Linked DNA regions of Homo sapiens: region 1 is linked to region 2. The links come from fine-mapping of genetic effects on gene expression. A gene starts in region 2. The other region holds a variant in brackets. All regions are shown on one strand. Distances are between the middles of the regions.

Region 1 (8,000 bases), 26 kb after region 2:
ACCTCCCAAAGTGCTGGGATTACAGGCGTGAGCCACCACACCCAGCCTCCTCACCAACTTTTGATATTACTAGTTTTTTTCTTTTCAGCCCTTCTGATGTGTGTATAATGATAACTTCATGGTTTTAATTTGAATTTCTCAGGTAACTAATGATGTTGAACATTTTCATGTGCTTGTTGGCCGTTTATATATCTTCCTCTGTGACATGTCTGTTCCAGTCTTTTGTTGCTTTTTAGGTTTGGTTGTTTATCTTTTTATTATAGAGTTGTTAGAGCTCTTTAGATATTCTGGATACCAGTCCTTTGTCAGATATGTTTTGTGACTATTTCTCCTAGTCTGTGGCTTGCCTGTTTTCTTTCTTTGAGCAAATGGTTTAAATTTTGATGCAGTCATATTTATGTTGTTTTTTTTTTTCCTTCCATTTATGGTTTTTGCTTTCTAGGCCCTGTCCAGGAAACTTTTGCCTACCCTGTAGTCAGGAAGGTGTTTTCCTATGTGTTCTGTGAAAGCTTTATATAGTTAACACTATACATAAAAGCTAAAGTTTTTATATTTAAGTCAATAATCTATCTCATTAATTTTTATGTATGTTGTGAGGTATGAATCAAGGTTGTTTTTTTCCTAATGGATTCCTATTCCATCATCATTTGTTGAGAAGATTTTTCTTCCCTCCTGGGATTGCTTTGGTGCTTTACAGTCCTGTGACCTGTGAGTCTGTTTCTGGACTCTTTAGTCTCTTCTAATGATCTATTTGTCAGTCTTCAACTTTGTTCTTTTTCAGGATAGCTTTGCATTTTCTAGTTTCTTTTCCTTTCCATATAAAATTTAAAATCCACTTTGTCTGCAAAAGAGCCTGTTGGGATTATGATTAGGATGGGATTGGACCTAGAGATCAGTTTGAGGGTTGATACGTTAATAATATTGAGTACCCAGAATATGGTATATCTCTTCATTTATTTAGCTCTTTTTAAATTTGTTTTGGTAATATTCTGTGATTTTTTTTTTTTTTTTTTTTTGGTATGGAGGTCTTACATCTTTTGTAAAATTTATTCCTAATACTTTGGATTTTGACATTATCATAAAAGAAAATTATTTCACTGAGTTTTCCAGTTTGCTGCTGGCCTAAACATATAGTTAATTTTTTATATTTTAATCTTGTATCCTATGACTTTGCTAAATTCATATATTAAATAGTTGCTCCATAGATTCCTTAAGATGGCAGTGAAGGCTGTTTGATGTCTTGCTTTCTAATGTTTGTGCCTTTTATTTCTTTTTCTTGCCTCACTGCAACGTGTAAGACCTCGAGCACAAAGTAAGGAGAGTGGGTATCCTTGCCTTGTTTCTAGTCTTAACGGGAAGAGATCAAATATCTTCACCATTAAGTACAGTGTCAGCTGTAGATTTTCTTAACTGTTTCTTAACCTTCATCAGTGAAAGAAGGTTCTTCCTAATTCCAGGTTTCTTAGGTTTCTACCATGAATGAGCATTGCATTTTCTCATGCTTTTTCTGCATCTGTTGGGTTGGCACAGTCTTTCTCTGTGCAGTTGAATTGGAATTTATCACCACCTCTAATGGCGACTTGCTCTTTGAGATGATCGTCTCATACTGTTCTCACTTTGAAATCTCCCACCTCCATCCCATCACAGTTAACACCTGCTGCTGCTTCAAGAGAGGTTGGTGCTGTCGGTCTGGGGCTCCCTTCTCTTTCCTTCTTCAGGTGACCAGCCCCCTAAGTGGTTTGTTCCTCCAGGCAAGCAGTCTCAACCATAAATCCATCTCAGTATATCTAGTAGCTCCTGTATTTGAAGACAGAAACTTCCCTTGCCCATGCATATCCCCCAGCCCCTCCCATATTTCTACTTCTCCAGAACATAACTTCTTTTTTTGTTTTGTTTTTTTGGTTTTTTTGGTGGAGTCTCGTTGTGCTGCCCATGCTGGAGTCTGGTGGTGCCATCTCGGCTGGCTGCAACCTCCGTCTCTCAGGTTCAACTGATGCTCCTGCCTCAGCCTCCCAAGTAGCTGGGATTACAGGCGCCCACCGCGATGCCCGGCTCATTTTTTGTATTTTTAGTAGAGATGGGGTTTCATCATGTTGGCCAGGCTGGCCTCGAACGCCTGACCTCAGGTGATCTGCCTGCCTCAGCCTCCCAAAGTGATGGGACTCCAGGCGTGAGCCCCTGCGCCTGGCCTGTAGCATAACTCCTATAGATAGTTGCCTAAGTTTTTTTCCACTTCTCATTCTCTTTCATGTTTCAGCCATTCTTCCTACACATCTCCATCAAAATATGTCAAGGTCGCCATATAAGCTCCTCGTTCCCAGACTCAGGGGACGTGTCTCATTTCCTCTTCCCTCCTCTGCAGTGCTGGGCACAGTTACCTGCTTGCTGTTCTTCAGATGCCCTCTTCTGTTGACTTCCATCTCATACACGGTCTTGGCTTTTCTCTTACTCAATCTCCTTTGCTGACCTTTGGCAGTTTCGGTGCCACACAGGGCCCTGGGCCCACATCTCTTTGGCCTCCTCTCCGTGATGGCAGGCACTGCCCTGTTTACCACTGTATACTTGGGATGGTCTCTACTGGTGTAGGATCTGCTGTTTGTGTTGAATGGGTGAAGTAAATAAGTCAAGTTTTACCAAGCAAAGCAGTAAGAACCTATTCTTTGAAAAAAAATAAAAATACAGTTGATTCTTGTTGTTCACAGTTCTAGTCTGTAAGTCTCTGGGACGCTGGATTAGCGAATCATGAAGTGTTGCTCCCAGGGGAAGGATTGGTAGGTGGCCTCTGGTCGCAACATTTTCATCAGCTGATCAAAAGACAACCTCGTTTTGTGTGTGCTTCCCTGCCTCAAGACATGCTGACGTAATGGGGATTGTTGGTTCACTAACATTGAACTCGCGGCTCGCATAGAACTCAGCCCACACATGTGCTTTCTCCGCGGGGTACATCCCAGGCTGCTTGTGCTTAGGGATACTCGACGACACTCAGCACTGTGCCAGGGCCAACAGTGAAATCAACAACAAGCACAAAAGTGCAAAAAGCAGACACTCAGTAGCCCTATGTAGACCAGGAAAAGGACAGTTGTTTTCAGAATCAACACGAGAAGATAGGACGTTGCCCTGTGTGACCTCAGCCAGGAACATGTGCATCATGTGACTCAAATCTTTTCCCGAGGCTGGGAGCGGTGGCTCACGCCTGTAATCCAAGCACTTTGGGAGGCTGAGGCGGGTGCATCACCTGAGGTCAGGAGTTCAAGACCAGCCTGGCCAACATGGTGAAACCCTGTCTCTACTAAAAATACAAAAATTAGGCAGGCGTGGTGGCATGCAACTGTAGTCCCAGCTACTCAGGAGGCTGAGGCAGGAGAATTGCTTGAACCCGGAAGGCAGAGGTTGCAGTGAGTCGAGATCACGCCATTGCACTCCAGCCTGGGCAACAAAAGCAAAACTCTGTCTCAAAAAAATAAAATCCCACTTCGCATGTGTCTACGGACGGCTGTAAAACACCGTGAGTGTTTATGCGGGGTCACAAAGAAACCTTACCTAGCAGGTGAGTTCACAGATACTGAGCCTGTGCATGTTGAGGAGCAGCCCTATTTGGAAGTAAGTTCTTTTCACCACTGATTGGATTTAGGAGGCCAGTGGAGAGGCCAGTGGATTTAAATAAAATTGTACTTAATAAAAAACCAGTTTTGTGTATACCAGGTTTTCCTATGTGTCCCAACCCTGAAGTTAATGAAGCTGAGAGTCCAACTCTTCTTTCACCATTCAGGAAGTAGATATCAGGCCTTACAGCTAATTAGAGCAGAGCTGAGACTGGAATGTGATTGTTAAACTCGCCTTCCTGCAGGGTCGCCGTGGCACCCAGTACTCACCAAGGTTGCAGTGCCGCACACACGCCCAGTACATGTGTTAGGACGCGTGCCGCTGAGCTTCACCAAGAGCACTTCTGCCTCTTGGATGTAGCACTGGGGTTAACAGCATTTCACCACCCACTGAAACTGAATGGCACAGAGATTGAGTTTTGTTTTTTGTTGCTGTTGTTGTTGTTTTGATGTTTTTAAAACAACACCATTTGGGGAGTTTGGGGAATATCCAAAATCTGGTCATAAGGTCCATTCCATCCGTTCAGCCAGTGTGGAAGGAGCTCCTCGTCTATGACAGGCGACATTAGACCTGGGGGTGGTGCAGCCGTGAATGGGCCAAACACGGCACCTGTCCTCAGACCATCAGTCCAGCAGGGAACTCTGTCTCTCAGCCATTGCCTAGATTCTCAGTGGTAAGCGCGGTGACTACTAGAGGCAACAGGTACAGGATGCAACCGGGCCAGTGCGTGCAGCCCCTAATACTACCAAGTACTACCTGAGAATGGGGTGCCTGGAGAGTGAGAGGCTAGACAGTGGCCGGGGAAGGGCCTTGTGCCC[C/T]TGGATTTGCACATCTGGCTGCCGGATTTGAGAAGTGAGGGTGGCAGCCTCAGGACACCAGCCATGATCATCATTCAGTCCTACCCTCCTTTTTGGGGCAGGACTGGTATTACAGACAGGGTCTCGCTCTTTTGCCCAGGCTGGCATGCAGGAACGTGATCACCGCTCATTGCAGCCTCAACCTCCTGGGATCAGGCACTCTTCCTACCTCAGCTACACAGGCATGCACCACCACGCCCAGCTAATTTTTGTATTTTTTGTAGAGATAGGACCTCACTATGTTGCCCAGGCTGGTCTCGAATTCCTGCCCTCAAGCAATCCTCCCACCTTGGCCTCCCAAAGTGCGGGGATTACAGGTGCGAAGCACCGCATCTGGCCCCAGCCCTCTTTCTCGCCCACCGCCTAGCAAGCAGGGCTGCCGTGACTTAGTATCCATGTCAATCTCCTGAGGGAAAGAGGGGACTGGTCAGAGAACCAGGGTCTGATCTTTAGAGAAATTATTTTTACTGCAAATAATTGACATTCTGGGTTATGCACCATCTCTTCTGAGTTGGGTTGGCCTCGTGTCTGAGTGGTGCTGCATGCCAGGTGCTAGAGGTGTATCCGCTGACAAAGATTCCTGTGTCCACGCACTGGCATGATCCCTCCTGATCGTGCCTTTCGTTGACAGATCCTGGAAGACGGTGGCCGCTAGTCTGAGATGCTGCTGAGCAGAGAAGCTGCAGACAGAGCCTGTCCTCCCTGGCCCCCCGACCCTGCCACCATCTCCCCATTTGTGGCAGACGCTTGCATCTGTTCCTTTTGAATGAAGGTCGCTTGCTGTTGTCAGAAAGAAGGTTTATGACAGCTTTCTGGTAAAAGCAACTGAAAAGACACTGAATGGATGCTGTGAAGAGCTTAGGATGATGTACTTGTGTTTATGGCCCGTTCCATTTGAAGTGGTGTCGCACTGCAGGATGGCGCGTAGGTCAGCGAGGGGCCGCGGGTGCGAGGGTGGTCCTGTGAGAGGAGCAGGCCGTGTTTTTGCTGCAGCTTTCCCATGTTTCATTCACACACACAAGTACTTGTCACTGTGCTGCAGCTGGCCACAGTATCCAGTTAGTCACACGCAGCGCAGGTCTGTAGCCAGGAGCCACAGGCCACAGCATACAGCCTAGGGGCATAGTAGGCCTACCATCTAGATTTGTGTTTGCACGACACAATTGCCTACGGGGCTTTTCTTTGTTTTGTTGTTGTTGTTGTTGTTGTTGTTGTTGTTGTTTTTGAGATGGAGTCTCGCTCTGTGGCCCAGGCTGGAGTGCAGTGGCGCGATTTTGGCTCACTTCAAGCTCCGTCCCCCGGGTTCACACCGTTCTCCTGCCTCAGGCTCCTGAGTAGCTGGGACTACAGGCGCCCGCCACCACGCCTGGCTGATTTTTTGTATTTTTAGTAGAGATGGGGTTTCACCATGTTAGCCAGGATGGTCTTAATCTCCCGACCTTGTGATCCACCCACCTCGGCCTCCCAAAGTGCTGGGATTACAGGCGTGAGCCACCGCGCCCGGCCCCTTCAGGGCATTTCTTAGAACGTATGTCAGCGTTTTGTGACATGAGTGTAATAGCGACATCTTTTTAATAAATATGTGTCATGCCACTTTGGACATGTGTGATTCTTTGGCCAGCCTCAGTATGCGAGCACGTAGGCTAGCGCTCAGCACATGAGTCTATGGAACCCAGGGGAAGCAATTGCAGTTTCGTAGTAGTTTGTGTCTTAATTAAGGGAGCCCCTAGACCTTACTCTTTCACTTTACCTAGGAGTTTGGTTCCTAAACTCACCATTCAAATCCAGCAACAGAACTGACTGAAAGGAACCTTTGTCTTTCGTGTGAATGCTCGTGAGGGGCCATCCTTAGAGTGGAAATGCTCCTGAGGCTCCAGCGAATCAAGACCCTCAGACCCCCGGGCTGTCCCCACCCCATGACCACATGTTCCGCAGGCACCCTCAGCGCTGTGCCCTGCGTGTCGCCCAGGCAGGTGTTTGTTTTTGAGCGCAGATTCTGCCTGTGGCCATAGCCATGTGGAGATGTTCACGCATGTACTTCCCTTTGTGATTTCAGCCGATACGGAAGATGTGTGCATTGTAGAGAGATTGTTCTCCAGCAGCCTAGTGGCCATCGTCAGCCTTAAAGCACCAAGGAAGCTAAAGGTTTGCCACTTTAAGAAGGGAACTGAGATCTGCAACTACAGCTACTCCAACACGATTCTGGCTGTGAAGCTCAACAGGCAGGTGAGCGCTGCCCCAGCTGGGTGTGGGCTTGTCTGTTGCTCCCTCCAGCACTCTGGGACAAGCCCACCCCACCGGCATGCCCCTCCGTCATTCCCTTGCTGCCTGGCCCCACGTTGCCGGGCACAGATCCTTGCCTACAGAGACCAGCTCTGTTTCCTCACCCACCAGCTTTGCTCAGCCCATTCCATTCACGACAAATGCCCGGGCCTCTGCCACACTGCTCCCATACAGGCGTCCCCGGCCCCACCCAGAGGGTGGATGGCAGTCTCTTTCACCTATTACCTGGTTTTGCTTTTATAAATGTTACTTAAAAAAAATATATTTGGCCGAGCACAGTGGCTCACGCCTGTAATCCCCACACTTTGGGAGGCCGAGGCGGGCAGATTGCCTGAGGTCAGGAATTTGAGATCAGCCTGGCCAACATGATGAAACCCCGTCTCTACTAAAAATACAAAAATTAGCCGGGCATGGTGGCAGGCACCTGTAATCCCGGCTACTCGGGAGGCTGAGGCAGGAAAATCGCTTGAACCCGGGAGTCGGAAGTTGCAGTGAGCCAAGGTCATGTCATTGCACTCCAGCTTGGGCAACAAGAGTGAGACTTCGTCTCAAAAAAAAAACTTACAGACTTTTTTTTCCTTTTGTAAATTGTTAGTTTAACTTTGAATTCAAGATGAAGGATTTATTACTTTATCTCCCCCTAAACTAATAAGACTGTCTGGCACAGAGGAAGGACGTGGTGGGTGGCATGTGTGCGTGTTTCACGCACGTGTGTGTGTCTCCCAGCTTGTGCTCACGCCCAGGGTAACAGCACCACCCGGGAGACCCCTGGCAATCTGATTCTGCCCGCACTCCCTGCAGGGAAAGCTGATTAGGCTGCTGGCTGTAGAGTGGACATGATGACAGCCAGTAGCTGCACCCTGAGATACAGTGACTAGGTGAAGTCACAGTAGAGACGTTCTTGCCTTACGCAGTTGAAACTAGGAAGTGGTCTGTTAACTGACATAGTTGGTTAGAATGGGAAATTATAAGACATCATATCTTGAGCATTTAAAAATTGTGTTCACGTCCAACTAATGTAGAGCTGGTCATCTTTCTTGCATAAGTTGTCTCAGCGATGCATCGTCTGCATGTCTACATTCATTTTCTTCCAAATGGAGCAGGAACTTGCAAAGTAATCTGAGTGCACAATAAAATGTTAGACCTTTTAAAACCCCCTTATTTTCATTTTACCTGTGCTGCACTCAGCATCAGTTTTAAAAAGCAAATCTTTCCAAATCTATTCACAGCACACTTGTCTTAGCTGTAGGTTAGCAT
Region 2 (15,355 bases):
CTGTAATCCTAGCACTTTGGGAGGCCGAGGTGGGTGGATCACTTGAGGTCAGGAGTTCAACAACAGCCTGGGCAACATGACGAAACCCCATCTCTACTAAAAACACAAAAAAATTAACTGGGAATGGTGGCGTGAGCCTATAGTCCCAGCTACTCAGGAAGCTGAGGCATGAGAATGGCTTGAACCCCGGAGGCGGAGGTTGCAGTGAGCTGAGATTGCATCACTGCACTCCAGCCTGGGGACAGAGAGAGACTCCATCTCAAATAAATAAACAAATAAACTGCAAGACTTGTATATTTAAAACCACAAAACATTGTTGAAAGAAATCACAGACCTAAATAAATGGGAATACGTCCCATATTCATGGATCAGAAGACTTAATGTTGTGGGTTTTGTTTTTGTTTTTAGAGATGAAGTTCTTACTATGTTGCCCAGGATGGACTTGAGTATCTGAACTCAAATCATCCTTCTATTTCAGCCTCCAAAGTACCTGGCACTACAGGCATGTGCCACCATGCCCAGGACTTAATATTAAGATACCAATTGTCTCAAAAATTACTTACAGGGTCAACACAATTCCTATCAAAATTCTGACTGTAGTTTTGCAAAAACTGACAAGCTGGTCCTAAAATTCCTATGAAAATTAAGAAACCTGGAATAGCTAAAACAATCTGGAAGACAGACGTACCAAGTTAGAGGTCTCACACTTCCCAGTTTTAAAACTTACTGCAAAGCTACGGTAATCAAGACAGTGTGGTACTGGCATAAGGATAGACATTAGATCAATAGAATAGAACCAAGAGTCCAGAAGTAAGCCCTTATGTTTTTGACAAGTGTTTCAATTTGAGGGGGAAAGAATTGCCTTTGCAAACAAATGGTGCTGGGAAAACTGGATCGTGACCATTTTTTCTGATAGCAACTCAACTGTTAATTTTATTGAATGTCCCTTGTATGTGATGAGTTACACTTTTCTTGCTACTTTCACGATTCTCTTTGACTTTCAACACTTTGACTATCATGTGCCTAGCTGTTAATCGTTTTTTAGTTTATCGTACTTGGAGTTCATCAAACTTTTTGAATATTTAGATTAATATTTTTTAAATCGAATTCAGGAAGTTTTCACCCTCTATTTCTTCTAATATTCTTTCTCCCCCTCTTCTCAATCCTATCCTTCTGGGATTTGCATTATGCATATACAGATATTCCTCAACTTACAATAGAATTATGTCTTGATAAACCCATTTTAAGTTGAAAATATCATAAGTCAAAATGCATTCAATACACCTAGCCTGGCAAACATCATAGTTTATGGCCGGGTGCAGTGGATCACGCCTGTAATCCCAGCACTTGGAAAGGCTAAGACAGGAGGATCACTTGAGCCCAGGACTTTGAGATCAGCCTGGGCAACATAGGAAGACTCTGTCTCTACAAAAGAAAAAAAAATTAAATTAAACAATATGGCACTTCTGGAAATCAGATTCCTCTCTCCCCACTCCCTGGGGTTTGCTGTTGTTGTTGCTTGTTGCTGCTGGTGTTTGTTTAGTGACTTTTCTGGACTTTGTAAAATCTGTGTTCTTTGTTCTGTGCAACCACTGAAGACTTTGCTTAGTTATCTCAGTGGTCAGCTAATAACTGGACAGAGATATTCCTAGACGTCTACTTGCTTTGGCAGCACATACACTAAAATTAAAATGATACAGAGAAGATTATCTGACCCTTGTGCCAGGATTACACACAAATTCGTGAATTATTCCATATTTTTAAAAAAATGATTTAAAAAATTAAAAAGTGATCTTTTTAAATGCTTTAGACCATTAAGTTTCCCAGCATTTGCTGACAAACTCTGTGTGTGTTGAGGCATGTTTTCAATACTCCAGCAAGCAACTTACAACTCTGCCTTAGCCTTCATTTCCTCTTGTGCAGACACTCAAGGTCAGCCAGAGGTGAGAGTTTAGGACCTTCTCAGGTCTTCCTGGGTGTGCGCACAGCCCTGTACATGCACGTAGCCCACTAGATTCTCAGAAACACAGCAGGGGTTTTTTAAAGTATCTTATTGGCATCTCTTTTCCCAGTTATTCCTTTAAAAAATTTTTGATCAAGCCAGGCGCAGTGGCTCACGCCTGTAATCCCAGCACTTTGGGAGGCCGAGGCGGGGGATCACAAGGTCAGGAGATCGAGACCATCCTGGCTAACATGGTGAAACCCCATCTCTACTAAAAATACAAAAAATTAGCCGGGTATGGATGTCTGGAGCCCATTCCTTTGGCTTCAACTTTTCAGACAGTGTTATCTTGTAACTGTCCTTGAAGTGAGCTGCTAAGCAGAGGAAAACTTGTTCTTCTTTTCTTTTTAACCCTTGCCTTGCCACGGTTACACCACATCAGGTAGTTGAAATGTTAAACAATTGCCACTGATTGTTTTGGACAAATGCCTTGGGCATAGGGCTATTTGCACAGATACTGGCAAACTCTTGGATCAAATAAAGACAAGCTTTGAGAATAGCATTTTTCAGCAAACTGGCAGACAAGTCAAATAGTGACAGTTTTTGGGGGATGGGGCTTTTAGGGAGCTCCAAGCCCAGCCTGCCTCTTCCAGTGACTGGCAAGATGCTTGTTTTCACAGCTACCATGGTTAAAAGCCAGCCTATTTTCATGGATCTGGAAGAGAGGGATGCTTTTAGAGCAAATTAAAATGGCACAAAATCAGTGTTTATACTGAGATTCAGCCCTCTTACTTGAACATATACTCTTCAAATTGTTGCAAGCCTTTAGATAATTTCCAGGTCTGAAGAAATTGATTTTGACCATTTTTGTCAGCATTCTCTTTGCTTATATGGAGGAGTGAGTTTTTGGAGATTCTTGCTCCACTATTCTGGAAGCATTTCCTTTTATCCATTCAATATTTTTTGTTTCCATTGCCATTCTTTACATTTTTAAAATTTTATTGTAAATTGACCATGTGTGTATTTATGGTGTACAACGTGATGTTATGGCTTATGAATACAACGTGGAATAATTAAATCAAGCTAATTAATACATCCATCACCTCAAATATTTATATTTTTTGGTGGTGAGAACATTTAAAATTTATTTTCTTAACAATTTTTTTTTTGTTTTAGAGACAGGGTCTCACTCTGTCACCTAGGCTGGAGTGTAGTGGCATGATCACGGCTCACTGCAGCCTCAACGTCCCAGGCTCAAGAAATTTTCCCACCTCAGCCTCTCAAGTAGCTGGGACTACAGCTGTGCGCCACCATGGCTGGCTAATTTTTAAAATTGTTTTGCCGAGATGGAGCCCCACTATATTGCCAAGGCTGGTCTCTAACTCCAGAGCTCAAGTGATCCTCCCACCTTGGCCTTCCAAAGTGATGGGATTACAGGCGTGAGCCACCACGCCTGACCTCTTAACAGTTTTGAAATGTACTATACAGTGTTGTTAGTTATATTCACCAGGCTGTGCAATAGCTCTCAAAAAAGCATTCCTTCTTTCTAACTGAGATTTTGTACCTTTCTTTTTTTTTTTTTTTTTTTTTTTTGAGATGGAGTCTCGCTCTGTCGCCCAGCCTGGAGTGCAGTGGCGCGATCTCTACTCACTGCAAGCTCCGCCTCCAGGGTTCACACCATTCTCCTGCCTCAGCCTCCCAAGTAGTTGGGACTACAGGTGCCCGCCACCATGCCCGGCTAATTTTTTGTATTTTTTACTAGAGACGGGGTTTCATCGTGTTAGCCAGGATGGTCTCGATCTCCTGAACTCATGATCCGCCCGCCTCAGCCTCCCAAAGTGCTGGGATTACAGGCATAAGCCACCGCGTCTGGCCTGGCCTTTTTTTTTTTTTTTTTTTTTTGAGATGTAGTTTCACTCTGTTGCCCAGGCTGGAATGCAATGGCGCGATCTCCGGCTCACTGCAACCTCTGCCTCCCGGGTTCAAGCGATTCTCCTGCCTCAGCCTTCCGAGTAGATAGGATTATAGGTGCAAGCCACCATGCCCAGCTATCTTTTTGTATTTTTAGTAGAGACGGGGTTTTGCCATGTTGGCCAGGCTTGTCTTGAACACCTGACCTCAAGTGATCCAACCACCGCAGCCTACCAAAGTGCTGCGATTACAGGCATGAGCCACCGTGCCTGGCTCCCCACTCTATCTTAATAGCATTCTTAGGTTGTGAGATATTCAAGCTCTTCTGTGTTTTTTTTTTGTTTTTGTTTGAGATGGAGTCTCGCTCTGTCGCCCAGGCTAGAGTGCAGTGGTGTGATCTCAGCTCACTGCAACCTCCGCCTCCCGGGTTCAAGCTATTCTCCTGCCTCAGCCTCCTGAGTAGCTGGGATTACAGGCATTAGCCACCACGCCCGGCCAATTTTTGTATTTTTAGTAGAGATGGGGTTTTACCATGTTGGTCTTGAACTCCTGACATCAGGTGAACCACCCACCTCGGCCTCCCAAAGTGCTGGGATTACAGGCATGAACCACCGCGCCCAGCCATAGCCCTTCTTTTTAAAGAAACTAATGCTCAGCGAGGTTAAGTGACTGATGTAAAGTCATATATCCCCGGAGAACCAAGCCAGGGTTTGAACCCCAACACACCTGTTTGATATGAGTGTTCTGCATGTCCAGCCCTTCCTCCACTCATGTACCCTTTCACTCCAGTCCTTAGTTCCCTCCTCCACACCAGCTGTTTATCCCACAAGTTTATTTAGGCACTGATCTGTGGGAGGATTGCTCAGCTCCGAAGCTAGCAAATAAGGAGACTCCACGCACCTGCAGATGAGGGTTCTGCTCTCAGGTTGAAAGCAGAAAGTCTCTTCTCTCTGAGCTGGGCATCGGGCCGGTCACCTGGAGGAATCCCAAAGTGATGATAGAAGGCCCTGAGCATCCTTCCTGCTCTCCATGCCATCAGGAATGTCAGCTGATGCTGTCTCCAGGTGAGCCAAGACATGCAGGTGCATTCCTGCGTCACACGCAGGTCACGTCCCTGGCAGAAACCCAGCCTGCTCTCCAACAACACCCTTCTGGCAGTTCCCAATACCACGCAGATGATAGAGCAATTAAACAAAAGCTGGATGAGTGAGCAGCGGCTCTCAGCTCCAGCCCATCCTGGCCACCAGAAAAGGAGGACCAGGGTTTAGTTCTTGAGGTGAAACCAGCCCAATTGTCCCCATGGAACTGATGTTTATGGTTTCTTTGAATAAACATAGAAATTGATCCTCCCAGTCTTTTTTTTTCTTTCTTTTTTTCTTTTTTTTTTTTTTTTTTGAGACAGAGTCTCATTCTGTCACCCAAGCTGGAGTGCAGTGGTGTAGTCTCAGCTCACTGCAATCTGCCTCCTGGGTTCAAGCGATTCTTCTGCCTCAACCTCCTGAGTAGCTGGGATGACAAGCACCCTCCACCATGCCCGGCTAAGTTTTGCATTTTTAGTAGAGATGGGGTTTCACCATGTTGTCCAGGCTGGTATCGAACTCCTGACCTCAAGTGATCCACCTGCCTCGACCTCCCAAAGTGCTGGGATTACAGGCGTGAGCCACCGCGCCCAGCCATTCACATCTCTTTTGACTGAGAGCTTTACACTAAGATGAAGGAATTTTGACAATGGGCTCATGCGTTTGGGATTCACCATGTGCCCTATTACCCAGATGGATGGTAGAGTGGCCTACAGAAGGCTACTGAAGCAAGCCTATGGAAGGCTCAGTCATGACTGCAGCTAAGAGACCACATCCTGTAAGACTGGGCTGTTGTTCAATAATATGCAGTACACACCTGCAAACCAAGAGTGGAGGTGGTAGTTTTTCCTTGCATATAACATCTAATAACTCACTTAAGGAACTTTTGTTTTCATCTACCCAACTCAGGGCTTACTGGAGTTTGAGATCCTAACACACAAGGAATTCGCTTTTTTTTTTTTTTTTTTTGAGATGGAGTTTCGCTCTTGTTGCCCAGGCTGGAGTGCAATGGTGTGATCTTGGCTCACCACAACGTCCGCCTCCCGGGTTGAAGTGATTCTCCTGCCTCGGCCTCCCGAGTAGCTGGGATTACAGGCAGGTGCCACCACGCCCGGATAATTTTGTATTTTTAGTAGAGATGAGGTTTCTCCATGTTGGCCAGGCTGGTCTCGAACTACTGACCTCAGGTGATCCACCCGCCTCAGCCTCCCAAAGTGCTGGGATTACAGGTGTGAGCCACCTCACCCAGGCCATGGAATTCCCTGTTTTATCCCAGGGAACAGAGTTGTGGTTCTGGTCCATTGGAAACTGAGTCTACTTCGCGGTCATTTTGGGATCTTCATTCACTGAACCAATAGAGAGAGAAGGAGTTTCTGTTCCAGCTGGGATCATAGATTGCTATGAGCAAGGGAAAGTTGGGTTGCTGCTCAGAATGAGATCGAGGAGAACTATGTCTAGAACCCCGAGGATTCACTCAGGCACCTCTTTATGTATCTTCATTCACCAATAACCATGGCGGGTGAGACATGACTATACAGTGGTAAGTAAAGAAAGAGACTTTTTTTTTTTTTTTGAGACGGAGTCTTGCTCTGTAGCCCAGGCTAGAGTGCAGTGGTGCAATCTCGGCTCACCACAACCTCCGCCTCCTGGGTTCAAACGATTCTCCTGCCTCAGCCTCCCAAGTAGCTGGGACCACAGGCGCCCGCCACCGCGCCTGGCTAATTTTTTGTATTTTTAGTAGAGACGGGGTTTCACCATGTTAGCCAAGATGGTTTTGATCTCCTGACCTCATGATCCGCCCTCCTCGGCCTCCCAAAGTGCTGTGATTGGCAGACTTATTAAAGAAAGTATGAAAGTACATTACCAAGCCAGGTGCGGTGAATCACGCCTGTAATCTCAGCACTTTATTATGAATGCAGTAGCTATGAACATTCTTATTTATGTCTTTTAGTGAAAATATGCACTAATTCTACTGTATATGCACCTAGAAATGCATATACAGTGCATTTGGCCGAGTCAAAAGGTATATATATGTTTAATTTTAGTAAATAGACCGTGCGTGGTGGCCTGAGGTCAGGAATTCAAGACCAGCCTGACCAACAAGGTGAAACCCCGTCTCTACTAAAAATACCAAAATTAGCCGGGCGTGGTGGTGGGTGCCTGTAATGCCAGCTACTTGGGTGGCTGAGACAGGAGAATCGCTGGAACCTAAGAGGTGGAGGCTGAGGTTACAGTGAGCCAAGATTGTGCCACTGCACTCCAGCCTGGGCGACAAGAGCAAAACTCCATTTAAAAAACAAAAAAACAAAAAACAAAAACAAAACTTTAGTAGGTAGTGCCCAAGTTTTCCAAAGTGGTTGAAACAATTTAGACTTTCATCTTGCAGTGAGCCGAGATCGTGCCACTGCACTCCAGCCTGGGCAACAGAGCGAGACTCCATCCACAGTGTATGAGAGTTCCAATTGCGCTCTATGGTCATCCACACTTGGGATTGTCAGTTGCTTTAATTTTAGCCAATTTGGTGGATGCTTAGTAATACCTCATTTGCCCTTAATTTGCATTTTCTTTTTTTGTTTGTTTGTTTGGTTTTTTTGAGATGGAGTCTTGCTCTGTCATCCAGGCTGGAGTGCAGTGGTGTGATCCCGGCTCACTCCAACCTCTGCCTCCCAGGTTAAAGCGATTCTCCTGCCTCAGCCTCCCGAGTAGCTAGGACTATAGGTGCCTACCACCAGGCCCAGCTCATTTTTGTATTTTTAGTAGAGACAGGGTTTCACCGTGTTGGCCAGGCTGGTCTCGAACTCCTGACCTCAGGTGATCCTCCCACCTTGGCCTCCCAAAGTGCTGGGATTACAGGTGTGAGCCACCACACCCAGCCTTAATTTACATTTTCTTAATGAGTATTAACGATGACCACCTTTTCAGGTGCTCATTAACATTCTGATATCCTCTTTTGTGAAGTGCTTGTGTTCAAGTATTTTGCCCAGTTAAAAAAAAAAAAGCTGTCTATATTTTTCTTATTGATGCGCAGAAGTTCTGGGTATAATTCCTTTGTCAAAAATATATATATTGCAGGCCGGGCGTGGTGGCTCATGCCTGTAATCCCAGCACTTTGGGAGGCCAAGGCGGGCAGATCACGAGATCAGGAGATTGAGATCATCCTGGCCAACACAGTGAAACCTCATCTCTACTAAAACACAAAAAATTAGCCTGGTGTGGTGGCACACGCCTGTAGTCCCAGCTACTTGGGAGGCTGAGGCAGGGGAATCGCTTGAACCCTAGAAGCAGAGGTTGCAGTGAGCCGAGATCGCACCACTGCACTCCAGCCTGGTGACAGAGCAAGACTCCGTCTCAAAAAAAAAAAAAAAAAAAAAAAAAAAAAAAATATATATATATATATATATATATATATATATATATAAAATAAATATATGTATCTCTAAATCTTGCCTTTTCTTCCTCTCTTAATGGTCTCTTGAAAATAGCCCATTCTTCTCAATGTTGATGAAGGCCAATCTCTCATTTTGTGGTTACTACTTTTTTTCTTTTGAGACAGAGTCTCGCTCTGTCACCCAGGCTGGAGTGCAGTGGTGCGATCTCAGCTCACTGCAACCTCCACCTCCCGGGTTCACGCCATTCTCCTGCCTCAGCCTCTTGAGTAGCTGGGACCACAGGCACCAGCCACCACACCCGGCTAATTTTTTGTATTTTTAGTAGAGACGGGGTTTCGCCATGTCAGCCAGGATGGTCTCGATCTCCTGACCTCGTGATCTGCCTGTCTTGGCCTCCCAACATGCTGGATTACAGGCGTGAGCCACCGCGCCCGGCCTGTGGTTACTACTTTTTAAAGAACTTGTTTTGTTTTGAGACAGGATCTTGCTCTGTCACCCAGGCTGGAGTGTAGTGGCGCGGTCATAGCTCACTGCAGGCTTGAACTCCCAGGCTCAAGCCATCCTCCCGCCTTAGCCTCTGAAGGAGCTGGGACCACAGGCGCACACCACCACGCCCAGCTAATTTTTGTATTTTTGTAGAGACCGGGTTTCCCCATGTTGCCTAGTCTGGTTTCAAACTCCTGGACTCAAGCAATCCGCCTGCCTCAGCCTCCCAAAGTGTTGGGATTACAGGCATGAGCCAACACATCCGCTTTAAAGTACCTGTTTAGACTACTTTGTTTATCCCAAAATCATGAAGGCATTCTCGTTTCCTTCTAGAAATTCTATTGTTTTTACCTCTCACATCTAGGACTGTAATCCATCTCAAATTAATTTTTGAATATGGTGTGAGGTAGGGGTACTTATTCCTTTTATTGAAAAGACCATCCTTTCCTCAATGATTTCCAATGCGTTCTTGACCCTATAATTAGAATTAACTTCTGTAAGCACTCATTAGATCGTTCCACTTTCCTGCCTGTCTTTAACGGCAGACCATTGCTCTTATGGACAATAATCAGATAATGGTCAGTTCCTTGCGTAACAATACGCAGCTTGATCTGGCCACCTCCTGTCTCTCCTGCCAAATCTTGCCTTGTGTCTGCCTTTCCACTCTGAACATAGAGTTCTTTGGACAGGTCACACCCTCATCCTCAAGCCCTTCCCATATAGAGTGTTTTCATGCCCTTAGACTAGTTACTCAAACTTCAGGTCTCATCTCTTCCAGGAGCCTTCTCAATAGCACAGTCCCTGTCCCTTAAATATAGGTTGTGTGACTTCTATATATGCATTCATGGTCAGGCACAGTGGCTCATGCCTGTAATCCCAGCACTTTGGGAGGCCGAGGCAGGCAGATTACCTGAGGTCGGAAGTTCGAGACCAGCGTGACCAACATGGAGAAATCCCGTCTCCACTAAACATACAAAAATTAACTGGGCGTGATGGTGCACACCTGTAATCCCAGCTACTCGGGAGGCTGAGGCAGGAGAATCACTTGAACCCGGAAGGTGGACGTTGCAGTGAGCCGAGATTGCGCCATCGCACTCCAGCCTGGTCAAGAAGGTGAAATTCCGTCTCAAAAAAAAAAAAAAAAAAAAAAAAAATATATATATATATATATATATATATATATTCGCTCATTGTACCCCCGAGTTTCTAATTATATTTATTTATTTTATTTTTTGAGATGGAGTCTCACTGTGTCGCCCAGGCTGGAGTGCAGTGGCATGATCTCGGCTCACTGCAGCCTTCACCTCCTGGGTTCAAGCAATTCTCCCATCTCAGTCTCCTGAGTAGCTGGGATTACAGGGCCGTGCCACCACAACTGGCTAATATTTTACATTTTTCCTAGAGACAGGGTTTCACCATGTTGGGCAGGCTAGTCTCAAACTCATGACCTCAGGTGATCCACCTGCCTCAGCCTCCCAAAGTGCTGGGGTTACAGGCGTGAGTCACCATGCCCAGCCTATTTTATTTTACTTTTTAGATGGAGTCTCACTCTGTCGTCCGTCCAGGCTGGAGTGCAGAGGTGCAATCTCGGCTCACTGCAACCTCCACCTGTGGGGCTCAAGCAATTCTCCCACCTCAGCCTCCCTAGTAGCTGAGATTACAGGTGCCCACCACCATACCCAGCTAACTTTTGTACTTTTAGTAGAGACGGGGTTTCACCATGTTAGCCAGGCTGGTCTGGAACTCCCGACCTCAGGTGATCCACCCGCCTCAGCCTCCCAAAGTGCTGGGATTACAGGTAAGAGCCACCACACCTGGCCTTCTATTTATATTTAAATATCTCCCCATTATAACTTCTCTGAGGGAAAGGAGGAGGCCTATTTAGTTCACATGAGAGGTGCGTCCTAAATACTGTTGAATGAATGAATAAATTTAAGGGACGATTCTGTCCCAGGAACCCAGACAGTATGGACCTTGGAGAAACAGGACGTTTCCAGTCTCAGATCTAGCACTTGGCTAATAATTATTTCTGAGCCTCGATTTTCAAATCTGTAAAATTAAGATATACTATTCTCTACTTAGGATTGTAATGGGCATCAAATAAGATAATGTGGCTGGGCACAGTGGCTCACATCTGTAATCCCAGTACTTTGGGAGGCCGAGGTGGGAGCATCACTTGAGGCCAGGAGTGCGAGACCAGCCTAGGCAACAGAGTAAGACCCCCCCCGCCCCCACCCCATCTCTACAAAAAACTTAAAAGTTAGCAGGGTGTGGTGGCATGCATTTGTGGTCCCAGCTACTTGGGAGGCTAAGGTGGGAGGATCGCTTGAGCCTGAGTTTGAGGCTGCAGTGAGCTGTGATTGAGCCTCTGCACTCCAGCCTAGGCAACAGAGCGAGACCTTGTCTTTCAAAATAATAAAATGATAAGGTAATGCGCAGAAGCATTCAGCACAGTGATTGGCACATGGAGGGCCCATTGGGGTGTTTTTGTTTTTGTTTTTGTTGTTGTTTGAGACAGAGTCTCGCTCTATGGCCCAGGCTGGATGGATTGCAGTGGCATGATCTCGGCTCACTGCAATCTCCGCCTCCTGGGTTCAAGCGATTATCTTGCCTCAGCCTCCCGAGTAGCTGGGATTACAGGCGTACACCACCAAGCCCGGCTAATTTTTCTTGTATTTTTAGTAGAGACGGGGTTTCACCATGTTGGCCAGGCTGGTCTCGAACTTCTGATCTTAGGTGATCCGCCCGCCTTGGCCTCCCAAAATGCTGGGATTACAGGCCACCGTGCCTGGCCATTGAGTGTTATTAAGAGGAGGGTACGCAGAAAACAGACTCCCGCCAGCTCTGCCCCATGCGCATGAGCGGCCGCCGCTCGCCCTCAGCCAGGCCCAGCGCGCCCCGACGCGTCCCCACGCCTGCGTGATCCACCGGAACCCAAGCCCAGGCAGGCGGTGAGAGGGCGGGGCCTCCGCAGTGCGACTGCGCCGCTCGAGGCCGTGCGTCGCGGGGGCGGGGCCGCGCAGGCGTACCGGGTGCCCCGGCTCTGGAGCATAAACAAGAGCGGGGACGGGATGAGGCGGCGGTTGATCCCAGGGTGGCGAGTGGCGGCGACCGAGGCGGCGAGCGGGGCCCGGCGCCGACCCTGAGTGCAGCCTGACCCGCCCTCGCGCGCGCGCCCTCCCCGGCCGGGCCCACTCGCCGCGCGCCCAGCCATGAACCTGGCGAGCCAGAGCGGGGAGGCCGGCGCCGGCCAGCTGCTCTTCGCCAACTTCAACCAGGACAACACGTAAGGCCGGGGTCGGGGGTCGGAGTCGGGGTGAGGCCAGGGTCGGACCCGGGCTAGGGGGAGGGCCTCGCTGCCAAGCTCGGCGGCGTCGCAGGCTCGGCCTCCCCGCGGGCCAAGGCGCGCAGAGGCGTCCCCAGGGGCGGGCCCGGGGCGTGCAGGGAGGGGCGCCCTCCAGGGAGACCCTCGGGTGCTGGCCTGGAGCTGCGGTCCCGGAGCGGGAGAGGTGGTGGAGAGGGGGCTGCTTTCACCCTCTTGCGGGGAGGCCCCCTGGCTTCAGACTTAACTACTTCTCGCAAAGTTGGGGCCGAACTTTGGGGCTTGACTTGTCTTGGCCGCCTGTGGAGCGCTGGGTGTGGGTCGCTTCCTCTCCTCTCGTCTCCTCTTCCCGCTGCTTGCTCAGCGTCTCCCACTCACTCTCCTTTGAATCAGGCCCTTCTCCTTGTCTTTTCATCGTCTTAAGACCCTTCTCTCTCTCTTGATTTTCTTTTCTTCGTTTCTCACTGTTTTTTTGTTTGTTTTTGTTTTTTGGGGTTTGTTTTGTTTTGAGACAGAGTCTTGCTCTGTTGCCCAGGCTGGAGTGCAGTGGTGCCATCTCAGCTCACTGCAACCTCCGCCTCCTGGGTTCAAGCGATTCTCCTGCCTCAGCCTCCCGAGTAGCTGAGACTACAGGCACGCGCCACTGTGCCCAGCTAACTTTTTTGTATTTGTAGTAGAGACAGGGTTTCACCATGTTGGTCAGGCTGGTCTCAAATTCCTGACCTCAAGTGATCCGCCCACCTCAGCCTCCCAAAGTGCTGGGATTACAGGTGTGAGCCACCGTGCGCGGCCCTCCCTGTTCTTTTTGGGACATCAACTTTGATGTCTTCTCCAGCAAGTAACAAACTTAGCAATAACCTTGGCATCTGACCTAGCTAGGGAGAAACTGAGCCAAGAGAGGCGTTACGGACCAGTGCCCCAGGAGTCTCAGAGCTCCAGCGGGTGGGTCATCCTCAGGGCAAGAGAAGGCCTTAATGCCAGCCCGTGCATTCGGAACGCTGTTTGTCCCCACTGATACGGGTTGGATGCTGCCTGGGAGGAGGACTTGTGGGGATGGTTAATAGATGAGCGAGCTTTCTGGAGAGAGAAGGGTGAGTTATGGGGTTGGCAGGGAGGAGAGCCATCTTGGAAGTGAGTAAGAGGAAGTGAGGAAAGAGAAGGAGTGGGGCATTTGGCATCTTACTAAGTCATTGGTTGAGTTGTTACTGGCTGAGTGGAATTAACATAGCAGAAGGTAAGATTCTTTAGGAAATTAAAAGTGAATTGTAGAATGGACAACACTCAGTGGGTGGTGTACAGCAGGCACTCAATAGCACCTCCCCAAAGCTGTGAAGACAGTCGCACAGTGGGACTGTATTGAGAGTCGGAAGGGGCAAATCACCTCATCCAACTACAGATGAGGAAATCCTTCCGAAAGGCTCCAAGCTGGTCTGGGTTTTGGAATTGGTTAATAGTGGAGCGGGGGCAGGAGTGGAATCTCGCCTCCTGAGCTCTCTTCCAATGTTCTTTCTGCTCTGCCATGCTGTTTTTTTTTCTGTTTACAGAGTAGAATTCTGAAGACAGTGAATTTAGAAATAATAGCATAACAACGTGTAAAGATGAAAACTCCCAAGTACTGTAGCGTTCTGTGTGACCAAAAGCCAGAACAACAAACAATTCGGACAACCTGTTGCAGTTCAAGTGGAATAGACTATGTTAATCCAGATAGGGAAAAGGACACATCCCAAACCAATTCTAATTTGGTTTTTAAGCCCAAGGCCACAGTATTTTGAGACCAGTAAGAAATGGTAGTAGTAGTAGGGTGGTTTATGCCTTGTATAAATTAGAGAGTTTCCAAAACATTGTCGGCCACTCTTTCAGTTTTTCACTAATTATTTCTATCAGAATGAAATCAAATAGAGAAAAGCATTCTCTTTTACTGTTACTTCAGCTGGACTGCCATGTTCCCTGTGTCACAGAAGAGTGTCACTCTGGCCTGAAATAGGACCTTTTCACACTTGGACATTTTCACACTTACCCACTTCTCCATGCTCCCCGAAGTTATTACAGTTCAAGAGATTTCTGTTACTTTGAGATTTCATAACTTTGACTTGCCAGAGAGACCTTGATGTAGTGTAAACCTAAATTGGAATGAATAGTAAGCTAGGATTATACTAGAAGTTGACTGGGCTAAAATGACGGTAATTTGTTTTAAATCTACACTTGAAAGAAATAGAGAAGTTCCCGGAGAGAGCTTTTATGGCTTATACCTTTTCCTCCCTTCTTAATCTCCAGAATTTATTGAGGAGCACAATTTTTAGCAAGTGAAAGAATGACCGTCTAGAACTCACATTTACTGTATGCAGTGAGAAAATTTGGAAGCCAGTTCACTTACTAGAATATATATGTTATAGGGTCATTTCCCTTTTTTTTGTCTTTTAAATTCTTTTTGTATTTGTTACATACCAAACTATAACTGTCCTGCCTTTCTTTACTGGTAATATGATTTCCAATGTCGTACTTTTTCATGATTCCTATCCTAAAAGTGTGCATAAGTTTTATTTGTTTTTTACCATTTGTTTTTTGTTTTGTTTTGTTTTTTTACCTAGAGAAGTGAAAGGGGCATCAAGAGCAGCTGGTCTTGGCCGTCGCGCTGTTGTCTGGTTAGTTCCAACCCTGGTTTCTGAAAGTATCACCTTGGAAGGCTTATGTTAGAGGACTTTTTTGGCTTTTTGAAATTGCAGTGAACCAGTTAATAAGTGGGAGAGGATCACTTGAATCTGAAATGGAAATATCAAGGACTACATTTTTCCAGTGGATACCACAGCTTGTGGGAAGTTAGTGATGTAGCAATGTCTGTTTTAAATGCCATGTCTAAAAGGGATGGAATGAAGAAAGGGACTTGACTTTCCAAGTCTTGTGTTTGTAGAATTGATGTTATGAAGTGTGTGGAGACAACAGGAGAAACCTGTTGTTTTCTTCCACCATGTCTCTTCTAGGTTATGCTTATTGTGCTGGGAAGGTACTGCTCTCCTCTCTTTGTTCATCTGTAAATCAAGGGTTTGGGTTTTTGTTTTTGAGATGGAGTCTCACTGTTGCACAGTTTGAAGTGCAGTGGCATAGTTATAATGATCATAGCTTACTGCAACTTTGAGTTCCTGGGCTCAAGCGGTCCTCCTGCCTCAGCCTCCCGAGAAACCGGGACTACAGGCGTAGGCCCCACACCTGGCTAATTTTTTTTTTAGTT

Evidence for each region. PIP is the estimated chance that this variant, and not a neighbour inherited with it, causes the effect. A credible set is the group of variants that fine-mapping cannot tell apart.
Region 1: its variant is the best candidate, but not a certain one, in a credible set for the expression of WIPI2 in whole blood (INTERVAL, PIP 0.72).

What each region holds. Positions count from the first base shown.
Region 1 is chr7:5,208,019-5,216,018 of GRCh38, forward strand. It overlaps WIPI2 (WD repeat domain, phosphoinositide interacting 2), which reads left to right. Exons shown (of 13, transcript NM_015610.4): 4 at 6,517-6,686. Among named protein-coding and RNA genes, the nearest start is that of WIPI2, 22 kb to the left of the region's middle. The variant C/T (reference allele first, on the strand shown) is at 4,422.
Region 2 is chr7:5,178,401-5,193,755 of GRCh38, forward strand. WIPI2 (WD repeat domain, phosphoinositide interacting 2) reads left to right here and starts at 11,833. Exons shown (of 13, transcript NM_015610.4): 1 at 11,833-12,093; 2 at 14,718-14,771. The coding sequence starts at 12,020. It also overlaps the pseudogene RNU6-215P. RefSeq lists silencers at 4,605-4,805, 8,815-8,944, 11,618-12,267, 12,278-12,327.